Linked DNA regions of Homo sapiens. The protein of the gene in region 4 purifies or fractionates together with the protein of the main gene of each other region. This does not show direct contact. Each region holds a gene or a part of one and is shown on either strand. Other genes may lie near its edges.

What was found.
Region 1: the proteins of PLAGL2 (region 4) and TOMM34 purify together in Homo sapiens (affinity purification with mass spectrometry; one large-scale study listed by BioGRID and IntAct). This does not show direct contact.
Region 2: the proteins of PLAGL2 (region 4) and CRABP2 purify together in Homo sapiens (affinity purification with mass spectrometry; one large-scale study listed by BioGRID and IntAct). This does not show direct contact.
Region 3: the proteins of PLAGL2 (region 4) and SPAST purify together in Homo sapiens (affinity purification with mass spectrometry; one large-scale study listed by BioGRID and IntAct). This does not show direct contact.
Region 5: the proteins of PLAGL2 (region 4) and CMTR1 purify together in Homo sapiens (affinity purification with mass spectrometry; one large-scale study listed by BioGRID and IntAct). This does not show direct contact.

The regions. Positions count from the first base shown.
Region 1 is NC_000020.11:44,949,300-44,955,521, reverse strand, and holds part of TOMM34 (mitochondrial import receptor subunit TOM34), read left to right. Parts: exon of another isoform or gene 1-301; coding exon 302-454; intron 455-3,519; coding exon 3,520-3,689; intron 3,690-6,222. UniProt on the Homo sapiens protein: Plays a role in the import of cytosolically synthesized preproteins into mitochondria. Binds the mature portion of precursor proteins. Interacts with cellular components, and possesses weak ATPase activity.
Region 2 is NC_000001.11:156,699,106-156,702,583, forward strand, and holds the end of CRABP2 (cellular retinoic acid-binding protein 2), read right to left. Parts: intron 1,948-3,478; coding exon 1,769-1,947; intron 1,554-1,768; coding exon 1,437-1,553; intron 972-1,436; coding exon 921-971; 3' UTR 501-920; downstream 1-500. UniProt on the Homo sapiens protein: Transports retinoic acid to the nucleus. Regulates the access of retinoic acid to the nuclear retinoic acid receptors.
Region 3 is NC_000002.12:32,117,944-32,124,165, forward strand, and holds part of SPAST (spastin), read left to right. Parts: intron 1-6,222. UniProt on the Homo sapiens protein: ATP-dependent microtubule severing protein that specifically recognizes and cuts microtubules that are polyglutamylated.
Region 4 is NC_000020.11:32,199,995-32,206,216, reverse strand, and holds part of PLAGL2 (zinc finger protein PLAGL2), read left to right. Parts: intron 1-1,013; exon of another isoform or gene 1,014-1,123; intron 1,124-1,134; exon of another isoform or gene 1,135-2,737; intron 2,738-3,924; 5' UTR 3,925-4,038; coding exon 4,039-4,298; intron 4,299-6,222. UniProt on the Homo sapiens protein: Shows weak transcriptional activatory activity.
Region 5 is NC_000006.12:37,434,776-37,440,997, reverse strand, and holds part of CMTR1 (cap-specific mRNA (nucleoside-2'-O-)-methyltransferase 1), read right to left. Parts: intron 5,375-6,222; 5' UTR 5,369-5,374; coding exon 5,236-5,368; intron 1-5,235. UniProt on the Homo sapiens protein: S-adenosyl-L-methionine-dependent methyltransferase that mediates mRNA cap1 2'-O-ribose methylation to the 5'-cap structure of mRNAs.

The DNA.
Region 1 (6,222 bases), about 13 Mb from region 4:
CATAGTAGCATGAAAGCCATGAGGCTTTTGTTCTTGATTTTGGGGGAACTGAAACTATGAAAATTGATGCATGTGCACACACATTTAACAAAATTCATGTTTCTCTGCCTTCTTTCTCCTCCTCACTTCAGTCTACGTTGAAAAATCCCTGTTCTGAGGTTTGGCGTTTTTAGCCATGTCTCTCGGCCAGAAATTACTTCCTGTACGCTGAGTGCTCCAGATAACCCTGCCTGGAAGAAACTGTAGGGAAACCCTGGTGGCTCAGCAGCCAGCCAGTTGACATTTTTGCCTCCTATTCTAGAGCACTGGCCTTGGTTCCCTTCAGCATTAAGCCCCTGCTGCGGCGAGCATCTGCTTATGAGGCTCTGGAGAAGTACCCTATGGCCTATGTTGACTATAAGACTGTGCTGCAGATTGATGATAATGTGACGTCAGCCGTAGAAGGCATCAACAGGTGAGCTCCATTCCCAGCAGGTGGTCTCCACGGCAACTCCCTGTCCTTCTTGATTGGCTGCGGGCCATTGCCTTGTCTGTCTTCTGAGGGGATCCCTTTGGCTACACTTAAAAAACTCCCGATGGGCATGTAGGGGAAGCTGAGAAAGGAAAATCTGCTTTTTTATTTAGCAGGTTTTCAGGGAGTCAATTACTAAGATTGATTGATTGATATTTGCCTACATGTGCCTCACAGTATCTATGTACACAGTAATATTTATTGTACACTGTTTAAGGTGTTGTGCCCGGTTCAGTGGGGGATACCAAAATGAGAAAGAGATACAGACCCCACTTACCTTCAAAGCGCTAACGCTAATTAGAAGAATAAGACACAAGCCCAAGCAGCTATGACAAGCCTAAAAGGATATGGTTTGTGGACATGGTTCAGTATATTGCACTGTGACCAATCCAAGAGGTTCCCCAGGTGCAATTCCTTTCTGGTCTCTGAGCAGTTATTGGCTTTTATCTCATGGATATTGTCATTTGTATAACTGATCATGTTTCCCCTCTGCGTGTGCGGCTAGAAAGCCAAACACTGCACTAATAGCAAACCCTTAACAGGGACTTCATGGTATGTATTTAGTGCTTTATTTCTGGCTTGACTTGTCTGCCAGCATTCTTTGTTTTCTCTTTGCCTCCTTTTTAACTTATCTGATTCCACAAAATCTACCAATTATGTGACAGACTTTGCTCTAGGACCTGGGCTGATGACTGAGACATACCTCTTCCTGCCGTCATAGAGGTCCCGGTCTCAAGGAAGACACCAGTCAGTAATAGGCAAGCACAATACAACATGATAAGCGCCATGGTAGGAGGCAGCACAGGGGGCTCTGAGGCCAGAAAGGAGCCACCTAGCTAGCTGAGAGGGAGAGGGGGAGGCCAGAGAGAGCTTTTCAGAGGAGGTGAGCTAAGAATGAGAGATATGGGGTAGGGGGTTAGCCAGAAGACAGAGCAGCGTGTGCAAAGGTGAGCAAGTGTGACAGATCACAGGAATTGTAAGAAGTCGGTTTCACATGGTGCTGCAGGCAGGAGCTCAGCTTGGGACAGGTTGGTGAGGCCAAGTCACACAAGACCCAGGGTTCAGGGCTTGGACTTAATCCTGAGCAAGTCAGCCTTTATGAAAAGGTCTTTAGCAGTGGAGCAACATGAGCAGATTTGTATTTTAGAGAAAAGCTCTTTGCTGCCATGTTGAGGGATGATATGAAGGGCAACAGAATAGAAAGGAGTCATGCAGCAATCCAGGGGAGAGGGTGGAGAGAAAACAATGGGACCAGTCAGGGGACATGTAGGAAGTATATCAACAAGCTTTAGTGGTTGCGGGGTATCGAGAAGGGAGGAATAGAAGAAGACACTCAGATTATTGACATTCAGTCGGAGGTGACTGTGGGACATAAGACTAGAGATCTAAGTAGGACGGTTGGGTATTTACATGGAACAAAGGAAGAAAATACAGGCCAGACATAAGGATTTGAGGGTCATCAGCGCAGAGGTGGATTAGGGCTGTGAGAAAGAAAAAGAACATCACAGCTAGTGTGAAGAGGATGGAGCTTTGAGAAACTCCAGCATTTGAGGGACTTACAGAGGAACAGCAGCTAGAGAGGTGGGAGGAAACAGGGCATTGATGTCCCAAGGGAAGGAGTATTTCAAGAAAGATGGAGACATCATTAGTGTCAGGTGTTCCAAGGAGCTTACATTAAAGGTTTGGCAATGAAGTCACCGGTGGCTCTGATGGAAGCTGGTCAGTGGGATCAGGAGCCAGAGGGCAATGCTTTCAGAAAGTCAGGCTTGAAGAGAAGCTGGGGAGTATACCTGTGATGGCAAGGGGTGTCCAGTATGGTTTTATTAGGTGAGGAAAGAGTTAAAGGGACTTAAATGCTGACGGTTGGAGTTAGTAGAGAGGAAGGATGAAGATGTGGGAGAGGGAGGTGCTGCCTGGGTGTGGTCCCTGAAAGAGGCAAGAGGAGATGGGATCCAGAGCTTAGGTGGGTGGATTGGTCCCATTGTCTCTTCTGTTGTGACAGGAGAGAAATAGGAAGGATTGGGCACCCAGGCAGGTAGGTTTGTATTTGGGGTATGAGGAAGTTTGCTCTAAAAAAGGGGAAGGGCCAGGGAACAGGTTTGAGGAGAGCAGAGGTTTGAAATAGCTTGGCCGCCAGGAAAACAGCCTAGCCAGAGACATCTTGGAATTTGTAGTGATACAGTCTGTGGTTTTTATTCTTGTAATATAGGAAACATGGTTGTAGGAGCAGAAAAAGTATACAGTTAGCATTATTCACTCATTCAACACATAACTGATTGGGCCTTGGTGGTTGCTAGGTGACATACCAGGTGCTGGAGATCAGTTGACAGAATGAACTTGGTCTCTGGGTGGCATTTTAAGCTGAAATCTAAAGAATAAGTTGGAGTTAGCCGGGCCTGGAAGGTGGCAATCTTTTTCCAAAATGAAAATGGTTGTTCTGGGTAGAGGAAAAAGCATGTGCAAAGTCTTGAACAGAAGGATCAGAAGAGAATGTGGCTCACAGTGAAGGGGGACAGGAAGGGGTGGGGACCAGATCTCACATGCCACATTAGCCTAGGGAATTGGGAACCCCTGAGGAGTTGTAAGATTTGAGAATGACATAAGCTTTGCATTTTTTAAAAAGCCTGAGCATTAAACAAATGTCAGGTGCTTGCATGGTTGTGTACTTGATTCATTGATAAAATATGAAACAAAATGTATGATTCTTTCTTGGAGAAACTATAGTCTTTTTGGATCATGGTTTAAGTATCCTTAACAAGCAACAGATCACCACTTTAAAGGTAACATAGTTTGACCAAGCTCAAGGAATGTCATGGGGACTGATCTGAGATGGTGTTTATGGGTTCCTGTATTGCACGTGTTGGAGGAGCTAAAGAGGTGGTTCCGACCAGGGGGAGGGTGGCAGCTCTGGCTCTTCTGAAAAGGCCTACCTCCCATGGGTGTGTGAAAGGAGAAATATCTTCTTGACCCAGCTGGAAACCTCCCTGCAATCCTGCCTTCTTTTCCAGAATGACCAGAGCTCTCATGGACTCGCTTGGGCCTGAGTGGCGCCTGAAGCTGCCCTCAATCCCCTTGGTGCCTGTTTCAGCTCAGAAGAGGTGGAATTCCTTGCCTTCGGAGAACCACAAAGAGATGGCTAAAAGCAAATCCAAAGAAACCACAGCTACAAAGAACAGAGGTGAGCTGTGACTCCCTGCCCAGAGTCTTGCAATCTCCCACTATCCATTTTCTTTAGAGTAGTCCTGCAAAAATTGGCATTGTTTAGCTGAGTTATAAAAATAATCTTAGGAACAAAGTATAAAACAAAATACAAGTCTTCACCTCTTAGAGACTGTTTTCTCAGCTGTATAGTGAGGGTGATGATAAAGTCTTCCTCACAACCATGAGGACTGAATGACATAAGACATGTAAAACTCCCAGCCTGGCACATAGGCATGCAGTGTGAGTTCCCTTCTCTTTCCTCTGGTAGCACTTGGGATGTAGTACTTAGGATGTTTTTGGTTGCAAAAACAGAAAGCTCAACATGGTAAACATAGTATAGGGAATTTATTGGCTCATAAAACTGAAAAATCCGAGAGAATTCAGGCAAGGTTTGCTCCAGCAGCTCAGTATATTAACAGACTAACTCCATTTTTCTGTACTTATCACAGCTTTATTTTCTGTTGTGCGTCAGCTTTGTCTTTGGCAAGCTTCCCTCCTAGTAGCAAAATAGCTATAGCAGTTCCCGGCCTCACATCCATACCCCATGCCTCATGACCCAGAGAAAGAAAGTCTTTCTCTGATAGCTCACTAGGAAAAGATAGGATTTTTTTCCCCCAAAAAACTCTAGCTCACATATTTTCTCAATCATTTTCTCAATCTATTCTGGTCTTCATGGTCACAGGCCATTCCCTGAAGTACACACCATAACCGGCGGATGAGATTTTGTGATTAGGTCACCCTGAGGCACCTGCCCCACCTCCAGAACTAGAGGGTGATGCTTCCCAGGAGCATGTACACTGTGTGAATCCCTGGAGAAGCATGAAGAAGAGAAAGGAGATCCAAGCAGCCAAAAACAGGAGATTCCTCACCTCAACTGTATGAAATGAAGAGGCCATTTGTCAGGCACTAGGAAGCTCTTTTAATGCTCCAGGGGAATGGTCCCAGCCCAGCAAGCTAGGGATTCAGGCTAGAGGTGCAGAAGGGATCAGAGATGGAGCCCTGCCATGTGTAAGTGACCTATAGGTGTTAGGGGAGGACAAGAGTTACTCACCTTCTACAGGAGAATGCCTCTCTGGTCATGGGTAGCATTCACTCTGGTTTGTGGGAGCCTGGTAAGTGTTCCCCACTCTTCTCTAGGATGAAAATGTGCGGTGCTAATGAACCTGATGGCATCAGTGCCATTGATTTCATTCTTTCAATCAGTGCACCTACCATTGATTTCATTCTTTAAATCAGTGCACCTACCATTGATTTCATTCTTTCAGGGTCACTGAGCCATGTGTTCCAAGCCATGTGTATGCTAAGCAGTGTGACACAGAGGACAGTCTTGGCCCTCAGGGAACTCTCCCTCAGTTGAGGGACTGAGACATGTAAACAGTGTCTTAAAACACAAGGAGGAGGAACATGTGCTTTAGAGTCTTAGTGTTTGAGGACTTCAGGATAGAAACTGACTTAAGTGCATGAGGGAGTCGGGGAAAGACTCAGAAGGGGTGGCAATGGAGGTGGAGCCTTGAGCTGGACCTTGAAGAAGGTCATCAGGTGGGAAGGAAGGAGAATCCTTGGCAGAGACAGTGGAGAGAGTTGGAGAATGAAAGTGCATGGGGGGAACAGTAGGAATAAGGATGACTGCAGAGTGGTGTGTTGCAGGGTGCCAGTGAAGCTGAAGCCCTACTTCAAGAGAAACCTGTGTGCATGTGCACAGGGAGATGTACCCACAAATGTTCGTAGAAGACTGTAATAGCAAAAAACAACTGGAGATAACCCAGATCTCCATAAATGGGAGAATGGACAATTCAGCTTTGGTATTGCAGCAATGAAAATGAAGGAGCTGCAGGTCTGTGCATCAACACAGATGAATCTCAGAAATATAACATTAAGGGGAAAAAGAAAAACCAAGTCATAAAAGAATACACAGACTTATTCTTCTGTATGAAGTTCAAAAACAAAGTAAACAGCAAATGATCTGTGGGTACTGTTGTATATAGTTATACTGTTTAAAAAGGTGGGGAAGAAGCACAGAATTGGGGATAATAGTTTCCTCCAGCAGTGGATTGAATTGAGGAAGGTCCCCCAGGACTTCAAAGGTCCTAGTTATGTTCTTTTTCTTAAACCAGGCAATGAATTCAGGGTGTAAACCTATAATCTTACCCTGGTCATAAATATTTAGTATTTTATAAAGATAGTTTTAAAAATTTTTGAAAAGCAGATGATATGGAGCTGAGGCTGGAATAATTAATTGGGGCCAAGCAGTGAAGGGCCTGAACACCAAGTTGAGCAGCTTGGATTTCACCATGTTCCCTCTGCTTCCTCTCCTTGAAGGCTGGAGCAGAGCTGCATGTGTTAGATGAGGGAGGATACTCACAGGCTCAGCCCAAACCAGAAATGAGGAATAGCAGGCTCTTCTCCCCTTTTCTCATAGCCCAGAAGCTATACCTTTTCTTTACCAGATATTTGTTTATTAGTATTTATTTACTTATTGTCCTGCTTTAAGTTTATAGTGTGTTCCGTAC
Region 2 (3,478 bases), on a different chromosome or scaffold from region 4:
GGCAGGATGAGACCTCTCACCCAGAGGCCCAGGCAGCTGCAAGGCCAGCTTGTGGGTGCCGTTGAGCTCATCTGGAACCATGTGGGAGGCCAAGGCCAGGCCTGGGGTCACCCATGGGCTGAAGCTGGAGGAGAGGGAAGCAACAGCTGGAGGAGGAGGAGGAAACTGTCACCATGATGGAAAACATGGGAGAAGGTGGGAGTCAGCTCCTCAGAGCCCAGTGCCCCAGCTGAGAGGTCAGGAGGAGGAGGCCCTTGTGACCTTGGAAGCCAGAGCAGGACACCAAGGAAGGACCTTGGAGAAGGGAATGTGGAGGTGAGGCTTGTGGATTCAGCAGCAAACGAAGGGGTGGTGGTTAGAACGGTGACTGGAAGGACTGTCCTCTCCTGTTGTATAACTCAGTTCCATGCTGCAGAAACACAAGTCTTTCCCATACTACATTTCAGAGGCAAGGTTGAACTCAGGTGACTTATCTACCTGCCCAATGAGCCAGAGACAGGTTTTATTTTTTTAAAGCATTTTAATAAAATTAACAAATAAATATTCTAAACTGTATAGGCTACAGGGACAAAGGGTAGAAGCTAGAGGGCCAGTCTTTCCTGCTCAGGCCCTCAAGTCCCCTTTAGAGAGACCCTGCTCTGGGCTGGTTTGGGGCTAGGACTGCTGACTTGGGGAGGCGGGGAGTGAACCCGGAATGGGTGATCTGGGCTCTTGCAGCCATTCCTCTTTGTTGGTGTAGGGGAGGAGAGAAGAGGTCAAAGAAAGCAAGACCCTGCAAGAGGCATCCCAGTGACCCCCAGAAGTGACTGGGGTAAGGGGAGCGCTATCCTAGAAGGAGGGGGTGGGACGGAGGGGGCAGTGAAGCAGGGCGGTGAGCATGGCCAGTGGTGGGCTTCGGCCGCGGTTCTACCTGTGGCCACTCACTCTCGGACGTAGACCCTGGTGCACACAACGTCATCCGCCGTCATGGTCTGGAAGGACAGAAGTAGTTGTTAGCCTGAGAGGCCCCTGGGGTCCTGTGGCTTTGGAGAGGAGGGTTGAATGGAGGTACTCTGCTTGGCCTCCAGGTCCAAACCTGCTTCTTGGCTCAAGACCAACAGGCAGGAGCTGGTCCCAGAATGCCCAGGCATCAATGGAGGGAGGATAGCAATAGAGCCCCTGGGGCCCGTCCTCCTCCTCAAGCCAGGAAGATCTCCCTGAAGAACTGCTGGGATCCCTCAGTACATGCCCTTTGCTTGCATAAAAGGAACACCATTTCTAATTCACACAGGGCACTGTATGGGATAGGGACACCTTAGTTCTGTTCAAGCAGTCCCATCAGCAGGGTGCGGAGTCCAGCCATGGTTGTTCTTGAGTCTCCTGCACCCTGGGGTCTCCCAGAGAATCTTGGAAGGTAGCACTGGGTTTGCTATTAGTGGGGAGGAGGCAGGACTTACCAGGATCAGTTCCCCATCGTTGGTCAGTTCTCTGGTCCACGAGGTCTTGGGGCCCTCTCCCTTCAGGAGCTTCTGCTCACAGACCATTTTATTCTCACTCTCCCATTTCACCAGGCTCTGCAAGAGACAGGTGGCCAAGTGAGCTGGGCCCATAGCAGGGGCAATGCAGTGAGAGGGATAAGGGAGAGAGCCCCTTTCTAGCCCCCACCACCACCTAGGGATTTTCCCTACTGGGACAGAGAGAAGCTAGGAGTTAACTGCTAGCCTGGAAAATGGCAGGTTGAGAGGCAGGGCAATGACGCCATGACCCTGGAGCCCCTTCTGGCACTCACCTTACAGGGCCTCCCATCCACAGTCTGCTCCTCAAACTCCTCCCCAACCTTGAAGTTAATCTCTGTGGTGCGCACGGTGGTGGAGGTTTTGATGTAGAAAGTGTCTCCCTCCTGTTTGATCTCCACTGCTGGCTTGGACGCTGCAGCCACAGCAATCTTCCTCAGCATCACATTCACCCCTGTGGGGAGAGAGGAGAGGCTCACCTTTTAGGGGCCTTTGGGCACCTCTCTCACACCCTCCCCATAAGACAGTTGGAGCAGGCTGATTTGTGACTTGCTTGGGGTGGGTGTGTTGGGGGGTGCATCTGCCTGGTGCCTGGGTGTCTAAGAAAGTGCCTTGAAGGAGACGGTAGGCGGTGCAGCCCTGAAAGATGAGGGGGTTTAGGGAGGAGAGGGAGAGAGGCAGTGGCCTGCCCCTGGGAGTCCTGTTCCTAGCTGTGGCCCCACCTTGTTGAGTCAGCAGGTCTGGATCAGGCTCCCCACGTCTCAGCTCTTCAGTCCCAGAATGCCCAGGGGCAGCTTCTCCCCAGCCCCCTACCCAACAAACATCCTGCTACTGGCTCCGGTTGTCTCTGTTTACTTCACTTTTGGCCTTTTGTCTACCCTGTTGACAGCTCATCAGAGTCACTGGGACTGTACCCCTGGCCAAGCACAGGCCAGACCCCATCACTCATGTCCTGGGAAGTAGGAGCCATTTCCCTTTTTGCCCTATCTACCCACCGTATCTAGTGCTAGATAGGTCTTCATTTGCCCAATTTCTGCCCCACAGCAATGAAAGAGAGCAGGGGCAGCTGCTTCCCTCTACAGAATGGTCAGCAGCCTGGGAAGACAGAGGCTCTGGAGTAAGGTCCAGGAGGCTGTGATTTCCTCCTGGCTCAGCCCCCTTACAGGCTGGGTGACCCTGAGCAAATGGCTTAACCACCCTGAGCCTTAGATTCCTCAATTGTAAAATGGAAATAACAGCTTCTTCAAAAGCCAATCAAGGTTGGGTATAGTGGCTCACACCTATAATCCCAGCACTTTACAAGGCCAAGGCAGGTGGATTGTTTGAGCTCAGGAGTTCGATACCAGCCTGGGCAACATGCTGAAACCCCGACTCTACCAAAAAAAAAAAAAAGCCAGGGCTGGACGCAGTTGCTCACACCTGTAATCCCAGCTACTCAGGAGGCTGAGGCAGGAGAATTGCTGAATTGCTTGAACCCGGGAGGCGGAGGTTGTAATGAACCGAGATCATACCACTGCACTCCAGCCTGGGTGACAGAGAGAGACCCTGTCTCAAAAACAAAACAAAACAAAAGTCTGGGCGCAGTGGCTCACGCCTGTAATCCCAGCACTTTGGGAGGCCGAGGCGGGCGGATCACGAGGTCAAGAGTTCAAGACCAGCCTGACCAGCATAGTGAAACCCCATCTCTACTAAAAATACAAAAATTAGCTGGGCATAGTGGCGCGCACCTGTAATCCCAGCTACTTGGGACGCTGAGGCTGGGGTAGGAGAATCACTTGAATCCGGGAGGCGGAGGTTGCAGTGAGCCAAGATCACACCACTGCATTCCAGCCTGGGCGACAAGGCGAGACTCCATCTCAAAAAAAACAAAAAACAAACAAACAAACAAAAACGACCTGGCGCAGTGGCCCATGCCTGTAATCCCAGCACTTTAGGAGGCCGAGGTGGGTGGATCATCTGAGGTTGGGAGTTTGAGACCAGCCTGA
Region 3 (6,222 bases), on a different chromosome or scaffold from region 4:
TTAAGGAAGATAGGCAATCTTGCAGTTGATAATAAATATTTGGCTTTCCATACTTAGCACCGTTTTGAATTTTTCCAGTTCACAGATGGTATATTTAGTGCTGTTCCAATAATATTGCAAAAAATAAATCTGAAGACTCACTTCTGGGTCACAGTTATTTCACTATTAACATTAAAATCTTACGGACCTACCTGCAACATGTAGTGGAAATAAGTTGTGTGGCACGTTGTGGTGGGTGCATTATTAAATAAATGTGCAAAGGTTTTATGGCTGTCTCAATTTTTCCATAGTCTTGAGTCATTCACATACTGCCTTTATGGTGTTTATCACTTGTAAGTGAGTACCAACTGTACTAGAACTTACTGAATATTTTTCAAGTCTATTTTACTTATTACTCATTCTAAGTACATAAAATCACTGGTCTGATATGCAAGTTAGGTTTTCGCTAATACCCAGTAAAATAATTAGATAATTATTAAAATAGAAAGCATTTGTCATTATGTGAACTGGATTTATGTCATGTACCACCTCAGGTCACACTTTGGGAAACGTAGCTTACGTATTGAGCTAACATTTTGCTGGAGTTATATAAGATTAGTAAATGCTATAGACTAAATATTGAAAAAAAAGCTTGCTTAAAGAGGATTTACATAATTGTAGACCTGAAAAGGATCTTAGCAGTCTTCTGATCGATTCATTGATAAAGAAACTAGTCCTAAGAGCTAAAATGACTTGCTCAAGATTTTAGTTAAGTGGTAGACCTAGGAAATACCTTTCTAAGATTAGAGCTGCCTGGTTAGTGCTATAGCTGCCACCTAATTCTTACATTTATTTATTAAGGGACATGCTTTTTACGGTAGAAAAATATATCTAAAATTGTGAAGGTAATACCAAGGAAATATTTAGGCTATGCAAGAAAAGTCATTCAGCTTTTGCTTTACCCAGGCCTATAGAGAACATATCTAAAATAATAAGTAACATGTGAATTTGAATTTAGGCATATTTTCATGGTAGTGACATAATGTGCAATTAAGAAGCTATAATAATGTAAAAATGCCAGTTGCAAGTTATTTCAAATAAAGTTGAATAACCTGACCTCAGGAGGGGCAGAAACCTTAGTAAACTTAGCAAACTGAGACCTAAGGAAGAGCAAGATCTGTGGTAGAGCCAGGTCTAAAGGTTTATATCCTGGTACAAACTTGTCTATACATCACCACACCTGCCAAATGGAACTTTTTTTCCTTGTAGTTCAGATTTCCAAGAAAGGGAATATTATTGTCCTAGCTCAGCGTTTCACAATAGACTCACAAAATGAATCTTGTTAAGCCTATGAATGGGTAAGACTTATCCCATAACACGCCTCTATTGTGTAAAAAAATCAGCTTTATTCCTAATTCCCTGTAGTAGGAAGCTTGCATAGACCACAATAGAGACATTGTTAGATTATATCAAGAAGGTGAGTGGCAGGCATTCTTGAGTATACTGGAATTTTTATTTCATTGTAGAAACACAGAATCATAATTAGTCATCTAAAACTGGTTTTAAGGAGATAATACTAAAGATACTCACTTGAGGTAGATTGTTCTCAGAATTACTTAAAATAAGTGCTTTAAATCTTGCTCATTCATGAAGCCATAGCCCTGGAAGGAGATATTGAAAAACTTCTCCATCTTCCTTCAATCCCATAGGACCATGTTTTTAATTGTAGTTTAACATTAAACATAATTTTTGAAAGTAGCCAATATTAATCTTTGACAAAAAACTCAAACTAAATAGCAGAAAATAGAACATGCCCTCTCCTCTCGCCCAAAAGTAAGACTACATTTTAAAGTATATCACAGTGATCTGTCTAAATATTTTTCTCAAATATTTTACTAAGAAAGCGTATATTCTTCTGTCCTTATTTCATAGATCTCTTCTGTATCCTGTGCAGCTTGTCTATCATTTCGAGCTTTTATATTTCTTATTTTGTTCTCTTGCTGCTTAAATGTGATTCTTTGAGATTTATAGAAGAATGTGATTGTTCTCCAGTTTTAAAAAGCTCTTCTCTATCTACTAAAATTTCCATGAATTTCTTTCTTTCTTTTTTTTTTTTTGATTGAGACAGTCTCGCTGTGTTCTCCAGCGTGGCCTTAGGCTTAAGTGATCCTCCTGTCTCAGCCTCCCAAGTAGCTGAGATTACAGAAATTTCCATGAATTTCCAAATATGATGTTATCTTTCATATAAGCTTAAACATAAGCCTTTCTTCTTTCAAAAATGTTAGAACTTACCTCTTTAAATAATCTTATAAAGCCATTTCTTAATTTTTGTTACCTTTTCGAATCTATTAACTTGCATATCATAGTAAATGAACCCTTAGCTCCATCATACCACACACCTTCTACTCCTGTCCTCCCACTTTTTCTCACCCAGGCTGGAGTACAGTGAATATTTAGTGCTTTTAAATATTATTCATTACCAAGCCAAGTAGCGTACTATTTTTTCCTTGTACAGCCTTTTTTTCCCCTAAATAATTGTGTTATTTTTTCATTTGCTTCATTTTCATCTTATCGATTGATAATTCTTCTGTTCCATTTCAGTCTAATTTCCACATGGCCAAACCAATCTAAAAACCTGTTAACTCAGGTCTTTTTTTTTTTTTTTTTTCCCAGAATACCTTTTCCTGGAACCACCTTCTTCTTTTCATTCGAGACCAAATGCTTTCCATGCCTGTGTCAAAGTGGTTGTTCTCTAATCTGTCTTCACTACCATCATAATTTCCTTTTCCTTTTTTCCTTTCTTTATTATGTATCTCCTGTCTTTTAAATTCCATATTTTCCACTTTCATGATTTATTTTCTCATTTTGATGGCTACATCTTTCAGTAACTGAGAAAAGGTTGTGTGAGGGAATATTTTGAGATGCTGTAGTTTTGAAAATATCTTTATTCTGCTGTCTTCTCATTAATAATTTGACTGGATGTCAAGATTTAAGTTGGAAACTATTTTCCATGAGTATTTTGAAGGCATTATCTATTGTCTTCTAGCTTCCAGTGCTGCTTTGTATTAGAGACAGAAGATCAGGAATCAGGATAGCATTGGACTTCTTATTTCTATTTCCCAAAGCTTTTTGGATCTTCTCTTTATTCTTATCTTCTGATATTTTATAATGATATGCTTGATGCATTTACTTTTTCTTTTCTTCTTCCCTCTTGTACATTTCTTTCTTTTTTTAGGTGGGGGCAGGGGGGAAGGAGTCTCACTCTTCTCACCCAGGCTAGAGTGCAGTGGTGCAACCTCAGCTCACTGCAACCTCCACCTCTGGGGTTCAAGCGATTCTCCTGCCTCAGCCTCCCGAGTAGCTGGGATTACAGGCATCTGCCACCACGCCCAGCTAATTTTTGTATTTTTAGTAGAGACGGGGTTTCAGGCTGGTCTTGAACTCCTGACCTCAGGTGATCCGCCCTCCTCAGCCTCCCAAAGTGCTGGGATTAGAGGCATGAGCCACTGCGCCCAGCCCCTCTTGGACCTTTCTAGATATTCATCCTTCAATTCTGAGAAAGGTTCTATAATTCTTTAATTTAAAAAAAGTTTTTTTGTTTCATCTTTCTCACTTTTTTTTTTTTTTTTTTTTTTTAAGACACAGTCTTGCTCTGTCACCCAGGCTGGAGTGCAGTGGTGCGATCTCAGCTCACTGCGCCCTTCGCCTCCTGGGTTCGAGTGATTCTCCTGCCTCAGCCTCCCAAGCAGCTGGGATTACAGGTGCCCACCACCACCATGCCCGGCTAATTGTTGTATTTTTAGTAGAGACGGAGTTTCACCATGTTGGCCAGGCTGGTTTCAAACTCCTGACCTCAGGTGATCCACCTGCTTTGGCCTCCCAGAGTGCTGGGATTACAGGCATGAGCCACCGTGCCCAGCCCTATTCTGATTTCATAGATGCAGTGTCTTTTATGTCTCTGAGAGGTTTTGTCAAGTTTTCTTTTGTTTACTTTATTATCTGTTTCTTCAAGATTCCTCCTCTTTTCTTTTTGCCTTAAGCTTTTTCATATTGGAAGCTTCTCTCAAATGTCTGGTTATTCTGGTTGTCCACTTATATTACGTGGAACAATAAAAAAGTTGATTAGGACTCTGTGCTGTAAGTAAGTAAATTGTTGATAGTGAGAGCCCATTAATCACAGGATGATCAAGCAGCAAGCCTACTGTTTATTTGGGTTTCTCCAAATGGCTATAGCTGTCAGTCTTTTTTTTCTGGGGTTATTTGGCTTCTCTAGAAAAGAATTTTCTAGTCTCTTGTTTGGAGAATACAAGCTTGACTATTGGTGTTCCAGAAAATGGGTGGGAGGAGACGACTTTGTTTTCTGTTAGGTTGAGCCATGTGAAATTACTAGGTTTTGTTTTGTTTTCTGTTTTGTTTTGAGACAGAGTCTCACTCTGTTGCCCAGGCTGGAGTGCCTTAGCATGATCTTGGCTCACTGCAACCTCTGCCTCCCAGGTTCAAGCAATTCTCATGCCTCAGCCTCCCAAGTAGCTGGGATTATAGGCATGCACCACCACGCCTGGCTAATTTTTGTATTTTTAGTAGAGACGGGGTTTTGCCATGTTGACCAGTCTAGTCTCGAACTCCTGACCTCAGGTGATCCACCTGCCTTGGCCTCCCAAAGTGCTGGGATTACAGGTATGAGCCACCACACCTGGGCTGAAATTACTGTTTTTATAGGTCAAAAACAGTTGAGGGATAGGCATGGTGGCTCCCACCTATAATCCCAGCACTTTCAGAGGCCAAGGCAGGAAGATTGCTTGAGTCCAGGAGTTCGACACCAGCCTGGGCAATGTAGTGAAACCCCATCTATATTTAAAAAAAAAAAATAGATGAATATCTTTGTTTGCAGATAACATGATTGCATATGTAGAAAATCCCAAAGAACCAACAAAAAGAGCTCCTAGAACTAATAAGTGATTATGACAAGGTGTAGAATACAAAGTTAATATACAAAGTCAATTGCTTTTTTATCTACCAGCAGTGAACAACTGGAATTTGAAATTAAAACACAATACTGCTGGGTGCAGTGGCTCACACCTGTAATCCCAGCACTTTGGGAGGCCGAGGTGGGCAGATCACCTGATGTCAGGGGTTCAAGACCAGCCTGACCAATATGGTGAAACCCCATCTCTACTAAAAATACAAAAATTAGCTGGGCATGGTGGCGGGTGCCTGTAATCTCAGCTACTCAGGAGGCTGAGGCAGGAGAATCGCTTGAACCCAGGAGGCAGAGGTTGCAGTGAGCCAAGATCGCGCCATTGCACTCCAGCCTGGGGGACAGAGCAAGACTCCGTCTCAAAAAAAAAAACACAATACCTTTCATATTAACACTAATAAAATGAAATATGTGTAGTTCTAACAAAGTTTGTTGTAGAAGATCTATATGAGAAGAATTATAGCACTCATGAAAGAAATCAAAGATCTAAGTAAACTGAGAGATATTCCATGTAAATGGACAGGGAGACTAAATATTATTGAGATGTCAGTTCTTCCCAAGTTCATATATCGATTCAGTGCAGTCCCAGTCAAACCCCAGCCAGTTATTTTGTGGATACTGGCAAACTAAAGTTTATATGAAAAGGCAAAAGACCTAGAACAGCCAACACAGTATTGAAGAAGAAAAAAGTCAGAGGACTGAAACTACCCAATTTCAAGACTTACTGTAAAGCTACATTAATCAAGACAGCATGTCATTGGCAAAAGAATAGACAAATAAATCAGTAGAATTGGACAGAGAGCCTAGAAATCAACCCACACAGATAAAGTCAACTGATCTTTGGCAAAGGGACAAAGACAATTCAGTGGAGAAAAGATAGCCTTTTCAACAAATGGTATAGGACAACTGGACATCCACATGCAAAAAAGTTAATCTAGACACAGACCTGACAACTTTCACAAAAATAAATGGATCATAGACCTAAATGTAACATGCGAACTGAAACTTCTAGAGGATAACATAGGAGAAAATCTAGGATAACATGAGAAAAATTTTTGGTTTGGCAGTGACTTCTTAGGTACAATACCAAAACATGATCCTTGAAAAAAAAAATCAGTATGTTGAACTTTGTTTAAATTATAAACTTCTGCTCTGTGTAAGATGCTGTTAGGAGAATGAAAAGACATGCAGCAGAGTGGGAGACTTTACAAAATTCATTATCTGATGAAGGACCAGTATCCAAAATATACAAAGAACTTTTAAAA
Region 4 (6,222 bases):
TTTTCCAGCCAACCAGTGTGTTTTAGGATTTGTTTCTGGTTCTGAGATCAGGATCTGTTTTTTGTTTTGTTTTGTTTTGTTTTTTCTTTCCTCTAAGTCTATTTATAATTTCCCAGTTGCTATTTTGGGTTCTGCTTAAGGGAAGATTCTATCCCAAGGAACGTTCTGGGTCTATTTCCTCCGGCAGGTGTTGAATTGAGTTCTTCAGATCCCCAAGTAACTCTTGGGCAGGAGGATAAAAGCTATTTTAGGGTAGTCACTGAAGTGGAGCTGTTAATCCTCTGTGGGTCTCTTTAGTTAAGAACACTCAAAGATTAACCCTTTCCTTGTGCAGGGGTGTTATCTCTCAACTGTTTTTTAGGGGGGAGTGAGGAGAATTTGAGTGTGGCAGCAGAAGGTGGAAACATGCAACTCAATACAAAGACAAAGATAATAGCTCTCTTTTGTTGGGTACTTCTAGCAGGCCAAGCTCTGTGCTGAGCCCTTTGCATACCTCACTAAAATAATCCTTACAGCAAGCCTGTGAGGTAAGTATTTTTAGCTTTACAGATGAGGAAACAGGCTAATAATGGAGAAAGAACGCAGTTTCTATAGAGATGATGTAACACCATAAAAACTATAGTTTCATCAGAGAGCAGCAGGCATCATGGCCCATAACAGGGGACGGACAGACTGGGGAGAAATATGTCTCAGTTTCAGCTTTCAAAGAGGACCATACAGAGTTTTTAGCAAGCATTCCTGTTTGGGATATGGAGCCCTAATAATACAAGAGAGTATAGGAAAGTGGCTCTCTGCTTAAGAGAGAACTCTGGCCCAGGAGATGGTGCCTGGAGGGAGGTAAAGTAAGGGGCTCTTTAAAGGGGATGTGCCGAGGGTTAGTTGTGAGGGAAAAGGGGAAGACTGCATTCTGGGGGAGATGTTGGGAAAGGAAGGAAACTCACTCTGAGGCCTGAGAAGTAACATTAAAGAGGAAAAAAAGAAGTACTATTCAGGCCTCATGCGGAAAAAGAGGCAGACACAGCCGAGACCTCAGAGAAGGCACTGCATGTATTCAGAGCACACATTTTGTATCAGCCACTTTCAAGAGTATTATTTCATTTAATCCTCTATACGAATCTTACAGGTAAGGAAAATAAATCCGTATTTTAGAAATTGAGGAAACTGAGGTTCAGAGAAATAAAGTAACCTGCCTATGGTTTCCCAGCCAGTAAGTGGCAGCTCTTCTGATAGCAAGTCCAAGGTTCTTTCCCCTTTCAGATCAGGCACTAGAAAGAATCTTAGGCTGAAAATATACTGAGTTGTGCCAGTAACTGGGAAGGATTGTGTTTGTTTTATGGAAACAGGTTCTGTCAGCTTCTCTATAGTCTATAGTTGTTAAGATTAAAATGTGAGACCAGAAGAGCAGCTTTGAAAGAGAAGTAGAATTCTTTCACAGTTTTGCTGAGGAAGGACAAGTCTGAAGGAACAGGCCTTCTGCTTATGTAAGACAAACCCAGGAATCTTTCTGGATCAGAGGAGTTTTCAGACAAAGGGCAGAGAGAGACTAGATCCCCAAAAGGGTTCCTAGGTAACACTAGCAGCTTTGGTTATCCAAGAGGCTGCTGGTGACTGTAGGTAGGGACTTCCTGTGCCTTTTGAAAAGTGTAGGAGAGTAGGATCAGGGTGTTGGCTCTTTTCTTTGTGAAGACATAGCCCCATTAAAAGCAGATCAAGGTGAGCACATGGCTGCTGCTTTCCTCCTTTGGTTCTATCAGTACAAGCTCCTTAGCCACCACCAGCCTCTTTCCTAGAAGCCCATTACTCACTCTTTCAGTAGCAGCCTACTAAACTATTGTGTCTTGTTTGTGCTTGTTCAGGAGAACAGATGAGGTGGACGTGTGGGAGGTGGGGACGTAATGTTCTCTTTCTGAGTTTGTGTGGAGTTTCCAGGGCTAGGCTCCTCTCTCACATCAGCCAAATTGATGTGACTTGTTTCCTTCTGGCTGCCATTCCCAACTTTCCAGAGGCTGAGGTGCATGATTTCAAATTGAAGGGGGAGTAGAATTTGACTTTGAAGGTAGGGGTAATTCCCTCCAATCTAAACATGCACACTCGAGCACACTCTCTGCTCAATTCCAAGGTGCATAGTAATTGCTGGTATTACAAACAGGTAATTCCACCCTTGCAAAGGAGGAGGGGACTTAAACAATGAAAGCCAGACGTCACAGGCCTTTGAGGTTTATAGTGAAGCAGGCACATATGCCATAATGACTTGAAGGCTCAAGTGGGACTAGTTTTTAGTGCTACCTACCCCTCCCCAGCATGTGATTCATGCAAAATGCAGCCACCTTAATGCAGATCTTTCTAGACAAATCTACACTCGTGATGGGGACGTGTTTATCATATTACATCGCAGTGTTTCTTCAACAAGAGGAATGGTTCCTGAACAGGACGTAGCTCATGTTAATGATGAGCAAAGCTCTCTGGGGCATGAACCCGCTGATCCCATCATCTTGTTCACGGCCAGTCTGTTGGATGAATGGTCACTGTAAGCAGCAGGTGCTAATGAGCTGAGCAAGCATTCTGTGGCCCACAGCTAGTTTGTGCAGTTGGAGCCCTCCCCAGATTCTCGTGGATAATCCCCAGACACCCCCTTTTCTCTCTTCACATGGAAAAGCCTCATGATCAAATTTTGGCACCATCTCTTCAAAGGGAATCCCCCTGTTGTAGCAGGTTGCATCGTGGTTGGTAATCTGTGGTAAGCTTGGGAGTATGAATGTGGGTCTCTTGTCCCCTTTTGAGAGTCAGTGTGGTAACTCCCATCCTCTTCCTCTGGATTAGTATCTGGAATGGAGTTGTGTCGTTCTTGCACATCTCCCCTTCTATTCAACAAGAGAAAGAATCAGACTTTAAGATTTCGGCTCCCCACTTGGGAATGGCTGCGAACCCAGTTTAAACCAGAACTACCTGGGCCTAGGTTGGTCCCTGAGAATCAACCTGCATTCAGTGACTAGTTTACCTATCTGAAATAAAGTTAGGGTTCCTTTTCTAGATATTAGGTATATAGAGATGAAAGAGAGATGATGCAAGCCCTCAGACAATCAGGCTGGTGGAGAGGAGTAAATTCCAATGCGAGCTCGCTACCGTCTTCTAAAGGAGATGTGCATATGTACTCTGAGGCCCTGTAGGAGGGGCCTCTCAGCACCTAGGGGTGTTGGACAGGCTTTGCTAAAGAGGGATGGTCTGGGCCCTGAGACACAGTGACCCAGAGAAGTGGTGGTGGTCAGGATGGGACCAGTTCTAGTCCTGGTTTAGGGAAAATGCTAAGAATCTGCTGTTGCCTTCCCATATAGACCCTCCTGATGTTGATGCACTGCTAAGAAACACATCTGGTACCAGGACTGACTAGGATGTAAATTTCCTAAGTAGAGGCTTCCCCTTCCTCCTCTCTTGCCTTTTGGGCATTTTATTGCTCCTTAGCACCTCCATGAGGAGGACAATTGTGGAAAGTAGTGGACGAGGAGGTGCCAGGGTAATAAGAAGGAGGAACCGCTATCTCTAGGTTCAATGGAAAGGATATAAAAGTGAGGTCCAGAAGAAAAAGTTTGAAGTTTTGGGGCTTTTGGTTCCTCAGTTTATCTTGTTTCTTATTAGCCTAGATGGTACTAGTAATAGTAGCTACCACTAAGCACTTAATGGATGCCCAGCCTTCTGCTGAATGCTTTATATTCATGATCTCATTTAATCCTCAAAACATTTTTATAATTTAGGAGATTATTATGCCCATTTTATAAATGAGGAAACAGCTCAGGGAAGTAAGTAATTGGCTGAAAGTCACACAGCTTCTAAGTGGAAGGGCTGGGATTGGAACGGGATCTGTCTGCTTCCAGAGCCCATGTTCTCATGGTATTGGGCTCCCTAACACCAGGTGTTCTGATGTTTCAGGTGAAGAGATTGTTTTCTGAAAGCTGCGTTGGAGGCTGTGACAGAGCTGAGAGCCTGTGTGGAGCGGATGGGGAGGCTTTCTCAATAACATGGCCCTTTGCCATTAGCCTTGCCATGACCACATTTTTCACCAGCGTCCCCCCCTGGATTCAAGATGCAAAGCAGGAGGAGGAAGTGGGCTGGAAACTAGTTCCCAGGCCTCGGGGCCGGGAGGCGGAGAGTCAAGTGAAGTGCCAATGTGAAATTTCGGGAACACCTTTCTCAAATGGGGAGAAGCTGAGGCCTCACAGCCTCCCGCAACCAGAGCAGAGACCATATAGCTGCCCTCAGCTGCACTGTGGCAAGGCTTTTGCTTCCAAATACAAGCTGTATAGGTAGGTGACACTCTCATATCTCTTCCTGCCCTGAGGTTCCCAGAGGGAAAAAGCAGAGAGACTCTGCCTAGTGTGGGTTTTTAATCTGTGGCAGAAGAGTGGAGGTTAATTTGTCCTACAAGTATACCCTGAATGCCAAACAGTTGAAGTCACTCACTAAAAAATGATTCAGATTGCTTGATTCAGACACTAGAATCTGATGGGTTGCCTCCCCAAAGTATTGGGATTGCTGGCGTGAGCCACTGCACCTGGCCTTCTTACACCTTCTTAGTGACGATCTGGGTGCCAATGTCAGGCAGCCTTGAGTTTTGTTTGTTTGTTTGTTTGTTTTTTTAAGAAATGGGAGTCTTGCTCTGTCATCCAGGCTAGAGTACAGTGGTGCAATCAGCTCACTGCAGCCTCCAATTCCTGGGCTCAAGTGATTCTCTTGACTCATTCTCCCAGGTAACTAGGATTACAGGCTTGAACCACCGCACCTGGTTGTTTTTAATTTTTTGTAGATATGGGGGTGTGGCTGTGTTCCCCAGGCTGGTTTCAAACTCCTGGGCTCAAGTGATCCTCCTGCCTTGGCTTCCCAAAGCAGTGAGATTACAGGCATGAGCCACCGCACTTAGCCCTGAACATTTTTTTTTAAATATTGCTTTCCTCACCTTTGTCAGGTGATGGTCAGAATTTTAGCTAGAAGTTAGGAATCAGTATTCGAACTTTAGAAGGAAAAGTAGACCTTCTGGCCCAGTCTGTAAATTTTAAAGTAGAGGTTCAGAGTAGGGACATAACTTACCCAAGGTCACACAGCTTCAGAGGTCCTGCAGTGCCTCTTCTACTGAATCAGCCTGCTACTTACTCATTTAACTATGTCTGTCTCCCTGTTGCCCACTGGGGCAGCTGCTTTTCTGAAACTTGTAAGCCCAAGAACCCCTACTTAAAGTGAAATTAAACGTAAAAGCCCTGACATAAGGCAGATAGAGAAGAGCAGCTTTGGTTGCTTTGGTGAGGATGGGGAGGCATGGTCAAAAGCAATTTTGGGCCAGGCGTGGTGGCTCGCACTTGTAATCCCAGCACTTTGGGAGGCTGAGGCGGGCGGATCACTTGAGGCCAGGAGTTTGAGGCAAGCCTGGCCAACATGGTGAAACCCCATCTCTACTAAAAATTTTTTAAAAATTAGCTGGGTGTGGTGGCACATGCCTGTAGTCCCAGCTACTTGGGACTCTGTGGCAGGAGAATCACTTGAACCCAGGAGAAGGAGGTTGCAGTGAACTGAGATTGTGCCACTGTACTCCAGCCTGGGTGACAGAGCAAGACTGTCTCAAAAAAAACAAAAAAGAGCAATTTTGATTTTATCCTTTTCGCATTAGAGGAACCATGAACTTGCCCTTTAGAAATGAGATAGATCAGCCGGGTGCGGTGGCTCACGCCTGTAATCCCAGCACTTTGGGAGGCCAAGGCAGGCGGATCACGAGGTCAGGAGATCGAGACCACGGTGAAACCCCGTCTCTACTAAAAATACAAAAAAAATTAGCTGGGCGCGGTGGCAGGCGCCTGTAGTCCCAGCTACCGGGAGGCTGAGGCAGGAGAATGGTGTGAACCCAGGAGGCAGAGCTTGCAGTGAGCCGAGATCACACCACTGCACTCCAGCCTGGGCGACAGAGCGAGACTCCGTCTCAAAAAAAAAGAAATGAGATAGATTGGCCTGATGCACAGTCATCCAACCATCCATTCATCTATCCAACATTATTGAGCTCTTGCTCTGTACCAGGCACAGTGCTCGGTGCAAGGGGCGGAGTAGTGAGCCAGACAGATGGGGGTGCTGGTCCTCCTTGGGTTTATGGTCTTAATAGTGGGTACAGACAGTAAACAAGTAAATACATGAACAAGATGACCACAAAGCCTCAGTTCCTCATCTGGAAAACAGTTAATAGGAAGG
Region 5 (6,222 bases), on a different chromosome or scaffold from region 4:
AATCTGGACATTCATAGGTCTACCTATGAAAAAGTCTGAAAACCCGGTATCCTTCTCAAAGGAGGGTATGCCCTTGCTCCAGCTCTAAAGAGTTGCCAGGCTGTTAGATTTGCCTGAGGGCCCAACAATGAGCACGGAGATAGTACAAATAACATTCCTGGGCACACAGGGTTCCTGCCACCCTAAGATCTCAAAGAGAGATCTTTTGTTTCCTTCTGTCTTCAGAATATCTCTGGGCAAAAATGACAGGGAGAACCAAATTTGAGTGGAAGGCTCACTAAGCAAATCAGTGGTGACTCTGGTGTAAAATTCCAGTACCAGACTTTGGCACAAAGATTTTTCCCTCCTACTCTTCCTCCCAAGGTGTTACCTAATGTACATTATCCTTTCCAGGTTCTAAGAGTGAGGTTAATGGGAGTAAAATATCACCCTACTAGGCAATTCCTTGTAAGATCAAGAAGTGTGCTAGATAAGCAAATAAGTCTTATTTTTTTCTTTTATTCACGTGGTATAGGAGACCACTTCTTAGCTTGACATGCTTTAAGCCAAAGTTCCCTAGATTATTCCTGATGTCCACAGACTGCCACAGCCACTACTTATTCTTACTCAGGGGCCTTTGAGGCTACTCTTTTCATATGAAAGGGAGACAATTGTCACGGCTGCAGCAGGAACTAAACAGGAGGCTTAGCTTCTCAAGACCGATAAAGAATTTAGCAAACATTGAGCAGATAATTTTGTAATGAGGTTGTAAATAGGAGTAATAAGGTCAGTCTATTAAACTCATTAGTTTCAATAAGAATTTGCCAAAGCTGGATGGCATTCCCATTTACCTCCTGGGGAGCTCCCCTCCTAAAACCTACCAGAGAGCCCAAAACAGTATGTACGGTTTTAAGATTTCTTCTCCACTTGATAGAAATCACTATTAAGTCATTACAAGGAAGAAAGATTCAACTTTACAGAGGAAACAGAGGTCTCCTGGCTGTTGGCAAAATTTTTCACATGGCAATACAGCAATGGGACAAACATGCCAAGATTAAAATTGGCAGTGACAAGCTGGGCACAGTGGCATGTGCCTGTAGTCCCAGCTACTTGGGAGGCTGAGGTAGGAAGATCACCTGAGCTCAAGAGTTCATGGCCAGTGTGGGCAACATAGTGAAACCCTGTCACTAAAAAAAGAAAAAGAATACATATACTATGTTTAAAAAATGACAGTGACAACAAAGAGGGGCAGCTCCAACCGCTAATGGCCAAGGTGGGCAGCACACAGATACAGAAAAATAAATTATGAATTTTAATAAACATCACATCCTGCTTAACGACTGTGGTGAAATAAACTCATTCCTACTTAAAGACTCAATTTCTCCTTCATGCCAGACAAATGGTAACTTGTTAGAGCAATTTAAACAGATACCGATAAAGGAAGCTTTTGATTAAGGTCATGAATCTGGGCTGACAGGAAAGCGATGGTGTTTCAGGGCAAATAGCCTATTTAGGAAAGAATTAAACCTGGTGGAGAGGAAGGCGCCTTTAATGTGATACTGGTGAAGGAGCCTGGCAACTTCCAAAGCAACTGGCTGCAGCAGGGCTAGGAGCCTACACCAGATGCACAGCTAAGGAGAGAAGGAATTTTCTTAGGGTCTAGACCATAGTTTTCCCGTGAAAAACAACCAAAGAGAACAAAATGACCTCATCTGCCTCTCCTTACTTCAAAAAGTTATTTGACAGCAAATTTGTAAGAATGTATTTACACTTGAAAATACCTTCAAACTCCTTTGAAAATACTCAAAAGATCACGATGCAACAGTGGCCATGACAACAACATCCCTTTTCTTCTTTACTCTGGCCAGATGTCAGTCTTTGACCTGGCAATGCAGCTACCATGTGAATAATGTAAAATAAACACACTGATTAAACTAAATAGATCTAATAATGAGTCATTACATTGATTTAGCAGAGGAGGAAAAAATAAGGTCCACACAGACAGAAATAGTAACTACTGTTTTGTTTTTCTAATTGTCCTCCCTAAAGAGCATTTTTCAATCATCTACCTGAACATTATGTTCAGGTAGAAGTGGCTGCAGTAAATGGAAACACCTCTGCTTTAATAGAATGATTTGAATAGGAAAGCTGCATATACATTTCAGGGGATATGTAGACAGCAAACCACCAGGGTATACTGTCCGGGGGACACCTAAGAGAATTAGATACAGAACATAGGTGATATAAATGCTAAGTACTTAATGAAATGATCTTCTGCAGACTGGAGGAGACAGGCAAAATGAAAACTGTGACGCATTTTAAGCTTCTTGGAAAAGATACTATTGTTGCCTTTTATCAGTTCTATTCAGTAACTATTTACTGAGCTTTTGCTCCAGGCTAGGCATGGTGGGAAAGAAGGCACAGGGAGCAGTCTTGCTGATAAAGATACTGCCCTCAGTTTCTGTGTCAATGCAGAGCTGCCCCTTCCTAAAATAAATTAACCTAGGGAAATCTAGAAATGTTGGTTTGCCTCTGCCTCCCATCTCATTTTCTGCAAATGAAAGGACGAAGTGGCCTCTTGCCAGACACATACAAGGAACTGGACACCTCTGGATTTCCATTCTTTTTTTTTTCTTTTTGAGATAGGGTCTTGTTCTGATGCCCAGGCTGGAGTGCAGTGGCATAATCTTGGCTCAGTGCAACCTCTACCTCCTAGGCTCAAGTGATCCTCCCACCTCAGTCTCCCGAGTAGCTGGGTCTACAGGTGCATGCCACCATGCCCAGCTAATATCTGTATTTTTTGCAGAGGTGGGTTTTCACCATGTTCCCCAGGCTGGTCTCAAACTCCTGGGCTCAAGCAATCCGCCCACCTTGACCTCCGAAAGTATTAGAATTACAGGCATAAGCCGCCATGCCCAGCCTGGATTTCCATTCTACACACACAACAGCAATAGTCAATCCTGACTGAGTCATATAGTACCACTTCCAGAGAAGGGGGAAGAGTAATCTCAATTCAGTCACAAAAGCTTGAAATTTAAATCAGAACGGTTTCCTTGAAGGATCCTTACCCTTATACACTTACCTTCTTTTACCTGGGACTTGTCCTTTCCTTACTTCAAAGAGATGTTACTTGAGAGCAAATGTCCCCCAAGATCCACTTAGAACCAGATATCACTTGTTCCCCAGACATACTCTCTCTTTTTCCCTTACAAGCCATCTCTCCCAATACCCCTACCCAAGGAGATTCTATCTTCACCAAGCTGCTCAAATTCCAGGTGAGAGGTAAAATTCCCTTTCCTCAAGAATCTCCAGAACCATCGCGTGCAGTAAGTTTTTGCCTTCTTACTCAGGAACTTCAATTCCTACCTACCCTGGAATCTACTGTGACTTTGAAGCAGAGGTGTCCAATCTTTTGGCGTCCTTGGGCCACACTGGAAGAATTGTCTTGGGCCACACATAAAATACACTAACAACAGCTGATGAGCTTTTTTTTTTTTTTTTTGAGACGGACTCTTGCTCCGTGTAGTGCAGTGGCACAATCTCGGCTCACTGCAAGCTCTGCCTCCCGGGTTCACGCCATTCTCCTGCCTCAGCCTCCCGAGTAGCTGGGAGTACAGGCGCCTGCCACCACGCCCGGCTACTTTTTTCTGTTTTTTAGTAGAGATGGGGTTTCACTGTGTTAGCCAGGATGGTCTCGATCTCCTGACCTCGTGATCCGCCCACCTTAGCCTCCCAAAGTGCCGGGATTACAACTGTGAGCCACCGCGCCTGGCCAGCTGATGAGCTTTAAAAAAAAAAAAAAAATCCCCCAAAAATCTCATAATGTTTTAAGAAAGTTTACAAATTTATGTTGGGTCCCATTCAAAGCAATCCTGGGCCACAGGTTGGACAAGCTTGCTTTAAAGGCGTGAACACCTCCACATACAAAGCTGCAACTGACTCTCTTATCTAGCCTGGACTACAGCGACACCGATGCTCCATTCGCTGTACCACCTGTCAAGCTTCTCTCTGGACCAGCTTCTCAGTAGCAGCTGATGAGTAACTGCCCTTCAATAAGCTTATCACTTGTGAATAAACTGTATTTCCTACTACCTTCAAAGGGTGCTTCACACCCTTTCAGTCACCAATCTGTTATGAAATTTCATTCCAGTTTCCCAGTGATCCAACAGAGGATCCAATATGCAAGCCTGCTGGTGTGCTGGGTTGAATATGGTATCCTCCCCAAAGCCTGTAAATGTGACCTAATTTGGAAATAGGGTCTTTCCAGATTACATCAAATGTAATACTAGATTACAGTGGGCCCTATCCAATGACCGATGTCCTTATAAGAAGAGGGAAATTTGGATACAGACACACACAGAGGAAAGGTAGAGGCAGAGATTGGAGTTATGCTACCACAAGCCAAGGAACACCAAGGAATGCTAGCAGCCAGCAGAAGCTAGAAGTGGTAAGGAAGGTCTTCCCAAGAGCCTTTGAGGGAACATGGCCCCACCAACACTTTGATTTTGGACTACTAGCCTCCAGAGCTGTGAGAGAATAAATGTCTGTTGTTTTGGGTCACCCAGTTTGTAGTAATTTGTTACAGTAGCCCTAAGAAACTAATACAGCTGGCAAGTCAAGGTAAATGCAAATTTACCTTGAGGTATTTGAGGCAAGCTCCCAGACATTTTACCATTCCTCAGAAAGCATCTATGGAAACTGTGAATAACCCTAAAAGACAGGCAAAGCAAAATGCTAGTTTCAACCAGATTAGTGAAATCTTCGACGCTTAATGCAAACAGTGAACGCAGCAATGCTCCAGTAGTTGGATACTTCTGACCACAACCGCTGAAGGAATTGAGAAAACGGTATGCATGCAAAAAAAGTGAAAATTAGGCTCGACGGCCGCAGCAAAGAGGCCCTCCCTTACAAAAGAGCCCCAGGATAATTAACAGCTATTAAGGGCACACAGCACTCAATGCTCACCACTACTTCTAACTGGTTTAAGGCAGCAAGAGTGCCACCTACTGAAGGACAACCAACAGAAAGCAACTTCTGGAAAAATTACCATTTTTTATTTAAAACAAGTTTCCCCACTCTTAGTAGGAGAATGGCAGAAGGGAAAAGAGTCTATAGCCAACATCTCTCTGTAGAGTATTCCTAATTTTCCTCAAGGGACCAAGGGGCAGTGGACTATAGTCTGCTCCACCTAGATTAGACACTGTGTGTTCAAATAACCAGATGGCCAGTGGCCTCAGACCACACAAGCACACGTACCTTTTGCTCCATGACTGACAGAGGAGGGAGGTTCATCATCGGACGTGGAGCTGAGGCTCAGGGCAAGCTCTGCAACTCTTTTTTTCTGTTTCTTGATGGGGGCAGTGCATTCTGGGTCAGTTCTCCTCTTCATCGTTAACTGTAACCATAAATCCAGTCAGTCAGCTGCCCTTGGGTCACAGCCACTGGGATCACAGCAGGGATTCCAAAGTGTAAATCATCAATGGGATGAGATTTGGCAATTCTACACATCTTCCAGTGCCAGCACTTGAATAGCCTCTTCCTCAGAATGAGGTCTAGGAAGGATGCTAGACAAGTGTTGGTTTTCAATAATAGCTGTTTTACTGGAAAATGTGGTGCTCACAGACTGAGAGAGCCCTGGGCCACTGGTGTCAGATAACAGAAAGTCATGGATCAACTCCACAAGCCACTGGGGGATAAAGCCTTGGTACCTGTAGTTATTCTACACTTTTGATGCAATATTGGCCATGCATGACAATGTACACTGAAAATGAACTATAAAACCGAATAAATATTAACCAATATTCCCAAGGTGAAGGGACCATCCCAGAATGACTGTTTCATCAGCATTATTTTACCAAAACAATTAAGAAATTACATAATATCATAAAAATACTGGTTTTGGTTTACTTCATAATGTTTGAAAACATGAAAGAATTGGGAAAGTTTTTAAGCAGAGTAGGGAATGGAAGCAGTGAAATGACTTAAGACCGAGGAAACACAAGAGCGGGAAAGTTATTGGGACTGGAGGTAGCTATACCACAGAACTCAGTTACGAAAACAACAATTTTAAGGACAGAAATCCACCTCCACAAAAAAGAGTGGAAACCAGCTGGGCGCGGTGGCTCACGCCTGTAATCCCAGCACTTTGGGAGAAAGAGGTGGGCGGATCACCTGAGGTCAGGAGTTCAAGACCAGCCTGGCCAACATGGTGAAACCCCATCTCTAGTAAAAAAAACACAAAAA